Linked DNA regions of Homo sapiens: region 2 is linked to region 1. The links come from fine-mapping of genetic effects on gene expression. Tissue or cell type: whole blood. Region 1 holds a variant in brackets; the other region holds the start of a gene. All regions are shown on one strand. Distances are between the middles of the regions.

Region 1 (2,500 bases):
GTGCCAGAAGGAGATCGTGCTGATTACAGAGGTGAACGCCACGCTGGGCCGCGCCTACGTGGCACTGGAGAGCCTCCGTCACCAGGCAGGGCCCAAAGAGGAAGAATTCAACGCCAGCTTCAAGGATGGGCGGCTCCACGGCATCTGCTTGGACAAACTGGAGGTAGCGGAACAGCGGTTCCAGGCGGATAGGGAGAGGACAGTCCTGACGGGGATTGAGTACCTCCAGCAGAGGTTTGACGCAGACCGACCCCCACAGCTGAAGAACATGGAGGTGTTTGACACCATGGCCTGGCCAAGTGGGATTGAACTTGCCAGTTTTGGGAATGATGACATTCTCAACCTGGCCAGGTATTTCGAGTGCTCCCTCCCAACAGGATACAGTGAGGAAGCTCTGCTGGAGGAGTGGCTGGGCCTGAAAACCATTGCCCAGCACCTCCCGTTCTCCATGCTCTGCAAAAACGCCCTGGCCCAGCACTGCCGCTTCCCCCTGCTAAGCAAGCTCATGGCCGTGGTGGTCTGTGTGCCCATCTCCACCTCTTGCTGTGAGCGGGGGTTCAAGGCCATGAACCGAATCAGGACCGATGAGAGGACCAAGCTCTCCAACGAGGTGCTCAACATGCTCATGATGACAGCTGTGAACGGCGTGGCCGTCACGGAGTACGACCCCCAGCCCGCCATCCAGCACTGGTACCTGACCTCCTCAGGCCGGCGTTTCAGCCATGTCTACACCTGTGCCCAGGTGCCAGCCCGCTCCCCTGCAAGTAAGTACACGTGGCAGAGCTCCCCCAAGGCAGCCTCATGCTGAGCCAGAGGCCAATAAGACAGGACTGCAGGTGCCTGTGGAGCTTCTGTCATGCACCCACCCATTTGCTAGGCCAGTGGGTACTCGATGCGTGACATCCACCCTCCAGGAGCTTGCACCCCTGCCAGGGAGATGACGCACATGTGCTCTAGGCAGCAGGGCTTAGTGCAGAGAGCGTGCATTTCTAGAGCCTGTCTGCCCTGGTGACAGTGCTGTGCTGGCTCTGCCCCCAACTGGCTGTGTGGCCTTGGGCAAGTCTGTCCTTTGATGCCTTGGTTTCTCATCTGCCGAATGAGTTGTGTGTGGAAAACACTCAGGACAATGCCTGGCAGGTGGTGCAAATGGTACTAGTTAAAGGTCAAGACCACTGCTGGGAGTAAGGAGAGGGCTGACCAGCCCCAGGCAGCGCCATCACATTCTAAGTGGGGCTGTATAGACTCTGGACCGTGCAGGAATTTTCAAGAGGGAAGAGGTCCATGTGGCTGTGGAGGAGGTGAGATGCGGAGGAGATGGTGGGGCTTTCAGGCAGAAATCTCACGGGGCAGGGGAGAACAGAAACAGCCTCTCTGGACCGGAGGGCTGGGGTCAAGAACTTGCTTGAGGGGGAAGCTGTATTAGAAGGGAGGGCAAGTTACTGAAAGC[C/CACAG]ACAGACAGGAAATTTTTCTCTTCAAGTAGTCACTGAAAACCAAAGAAAATATGCCCATTGTTGGGGTTCTCCAGACCACTCGCGACCACTTGACAAGGATGGAGCAGTGCTCTCTCTCCTCGCGTCTCTAGCTGGCCTCCTTCCGGCTGTTGCTGCTCCCAGTGCTCTCTCTCCTCGCGTCTCTAGCTGGCCTCCTTCCGGCTGTTGCTGCTCCCAGTTTTCACCTCTGAGTCTGTGGTCACCAGAAATGGGACTGGATCTCATGGCTGACAGAGGCTCTGTAGGAAGCAAGGTGGCCCTGAAGCCACAGTAGGGCAGGTGGGGATAAGAAAAGAGACCCCTCACTGATAAGAGAAAGGGAAAGCCGAGAGAGGGCTGGGTGAGTTGCTCTGTGTCCAGCCCTGTGGGTGCTAAGGAGAAAAAAATGATGTCAGGTGTGCCCTGATGCGAGTTACTCTTTCCACAGGGACAACAGGACCAGCACAGATTGGTCCAAACACTGCCAAACTACGCACCGCTGCCTCCTTCCAGGCAGGGCTCTCAGCCTTGGCATTGTTGATGCTGGGGCTGGGTAATCTCTGTTGGGGGCCCTTCCTGTTCACTGTGGGAACTTGAGCAGCATCCATGGCCTCTACCTATTAGATAACCACTGGATACCAGTAGCACACACCCCATTTGTGACCACAAAAATCATCTCCAGACATTGGCAAATGGCCCCTGGGGGACAAAATCGCCCCCAGTTGAGATCCCCTATCTCAGGATAAAAGAATGAACAGAGTAGCAACAGATGAGGGCTGCAAAGAGCAGTCGTGGTCCTGACTTCAGTCTGTTCTGCCAAGCTTTCCTCACCAAACAGCCCCTGGGCGAAGCTGGATGTGGAAGGCGGTCACTGTCAGTCAGTCTAATTGTATTCTCCTTCCTCCCTCACAGGCGCCAGGCTCAGGAAGGAGGAGATGGGAGCCCTCTATGTGGAGGAGCCCAGGACCCAGAAGCCACCCATCCTGCCCTCCAGGGAAGCAGCGGAGGTTCTGAAGGACTGCATCATGGAGCCT
Region 2 (2,626 bases), 25 kb before region 1:
CATTGTCTTAATCTCTATGTGCTTCTGTAACAAAATCCCTGGAACTAGGTAATTTATAAATTATGGATACTTATTTCTTATGATTCTGGAGGCTGGGAAATCCAAGATCAAAGCACCAGCAGTGTCTGTGTCTGGTGAGAGCCTGGTCTCTGCTTCCAGGAGGGCACCTTTTTGCTCTGTCCTCACATGGCAGAAGGCAGAGGGGCAGAAGGGCAAAGGGCCTAGCTAGTTCCCCCAGCACGCATGTGGTCACTAACACCTTCATGAAGGCACATCCCTGCCCTGGCCCCCTAAAAGTCTTTTTTTTTTTTGAGACATGGTCTTGCTCTGTCACCCAGGCTGGAGTGCAGAAGCGCCATCCCGGCTTACTGCAGCCTCGACCACCCAGGCTCAAGTGATCCTTCCACCTCACAAAATTATTTTATTTTTATAGAGATGGGATCTCTCACTGTGTTGCACAGGCTGGTCTCAAACTACTGGGCTCAAGTGATCCTCCTGTCTCAGCCTCCCAAAGAGTTGGGATTAGAGGTGTGAGCCACCGCACTTGGACAAAACTTCTTATAAGGACACTAATCCCACCATAAGGGCCTGACCCTCACGACTTCATCTAAACCTCCCAAACGCCCCATCTCCTGGGAGGGGAACACCGGTCAGTCCATTGCACCTCCTTTACCTGGCAGACCCTACCTCTTGCTTTAATTCTGCTGAGGCATCACTTCCGCAGGAAATCCTTGACTAAGCACCTCATATCCCCCACCGCTTCACTCTAAGGTGACAACGCGGGCTTTAATTCATGTTTTGTGCTTACCTCTTTCATAGCCCTTGTCTCTGTTTTGTAATTATCTGTTTCTGGTCTGATTCCCTAATAGATCGTGAGTTCCTTGAAGGCAAGGCCTTTGTCTCATTCAACTGTGTTCTCCCAAACCCTAGAACACGGCCTGACCCATGGTAGGCAACCAATGATACTTTTTGAGTGAATAGAACAAAAAGTATTGCCCTCCTTAATAAAAGAAAACCTAGAACTTCAAGGCTGACATTGGCCTTCGCGTAGCCCAATCAGAGCGCTTTGCCCTTGCTGCAGAGGACTAAAGGACGCCACGCCGCCGTTGCCTAGTAACTGTCGCCGGAGGGAGGCGGGGAGGGTCGCAAGCGCGCCGCCGGCGTCCAATCAGGACCTGCGTTCCGGGAGCCAATAGCAGCTTCGAGAGCCGCTCACCTAGAGCGGACTACACTTCCCGTCACGCCCCGCCGCCTGGGGCTGGGCAGTGACCGTAAAGCTGTTCGCTCGGTGCGACGCAAGTCTCAGCTCAGCGCGCTTATCCTGGGTCCACCGGCGCTACCGCCCCCCGACGTGAGAGAGCGAAGTTCTTGGGCCGCGCTCCCTCCCTACCTGGGTGCCCTCCCCCTCCGGGAGCCTGGGTCCCCGGGGCGGTCGCGGCGGCTGCATCCTCAGGCCAGGCCGCGGGGGGAGGGGGCGGCACGGGCCTCCGAAAGCGGGGCCATGGAGCCCAGAGAGTCGGGGAAGGTAGGACTGGAAGGCCCGGGGGCCGCCCGCTCCCTCCCGAGGATCCCCGAGCCGGGCTCGGGCGAGGCGGGGCGGCTCGGGCGGAGGCCCCGCAGATGAGCCAGGCTTGCAGGGAAGGACTCGCCGGCCCGCCCTCTCTTCCCGCACTTCGGCGCCCGACCCCGGGAGGGTGGCGGAGAGGAGCGGACGCTTCCGTTCGGTGTCCGCGCATCCTCCCCGAGCTGCCGAGCGTCCGCTGGGTCGATGCTGGGTTGGGTGACCCCCGAGTGGAGCGATGCGAAGGTGCTTCCTGTTTTCCCCACCACCTTCGGCGTTTTGAAGAGGCCCTGCTAAGGCTTGGAGTCTGGATCGGACGCCAGTGGGAGCTGCAGGGTGGGACGCTTGAGGGCTTGACCCTGCCTAGATCCTCCTTACCAAGAAAGGGCTGAAAAGAGAGGGCATCTGGCATGCTTTTTGCCACTTCTGTTTCTAGGTTATGTACTTCATGGAATATCTGGGCATTGCTTAGAAACCTGTGTCATAAATTGGCTTTGGGCAAGAGGCTTTGAGTTGGAAGAAAAGGTGGAAAGAAAGTGCTTGGGGGCGGAGTTCAGGGATTTGACGGGATTGCCAGCGCTTCCAGGCCGTGTCATCCAAGACCAGTGTGGTTGTGGGCACATTAGCTTGGAGACAGTGGCAGCCTCTTGGGACTAACATCTTTCTGGATGTTGTTTGCTGCCAGTTCTTGAGTATTGTTTCTTATTTGGCACAGAGGAGAATTCTCTCAACAAACGTTTTCGACTGTTTATTGAGTCCCTTAAAAAACTGTCCATTTAATAAACATTTGTGATCTGTGATTTGCATTGAACGAGATGCTGGAAGTATGAGGATAAATAGGAAATGATCACCTTTCTCAAGGAGCTCTCCTGCAGTTTTCACTTCAATAACTTGGACACGCCTGAAAGGGTTGTCCCACACGAAAAGAGAGAAAAGGATAATGAGGTTCTTTTGATGCTGTAGTTTTTCCTGGGAAGACTAGGAAGGACTCTGAATTTCAAAAGAGGTGATTTCTCGCATGAGCATCTCTTCCATCCTCCCTCCCTCCACAAGCTACAGTGATGC

Evidence for each region. PIP is the estimated chance that this variant, and not a neighbour inherited with it, causes the effect.
Region 2: ZNF862 starts here. The variant in region 1 is fine-mapped to the expression of ZNF862 in whole blood (TOPMed, PIP above 0.99).

The regions. Positions count from the first base shown.
Region 1 is chr7:149,861,731-149,864,230 of GRCh38, forward strand. It overlaps ZNF862 (zinc finger protein 862), which reads left to right. Exons shown (of 8, transcript NM_001099220.3): 7 at 1-764; 8 at 2,379-2,500. Among named protein-coding and RNA genes, the nearest start is that of ATP6V0E2-AS1, 11 kb to the right of the region's middle. The variant C/CACAG (reference allele first, on the strand shown) is at 1,448.
Region 2 is chr7:149,837,111-149,839,736 of GRCh38, forward strand. ZNF862 (zinc finger protein 862) reads left to right here and starts at 1,265. Exons shown (of 8, transcript NM_001099220.3): 1 at 1,265-1,525. The coding sequence starts at 1,502. RefSeq lists a silencer at 1,341-1,800.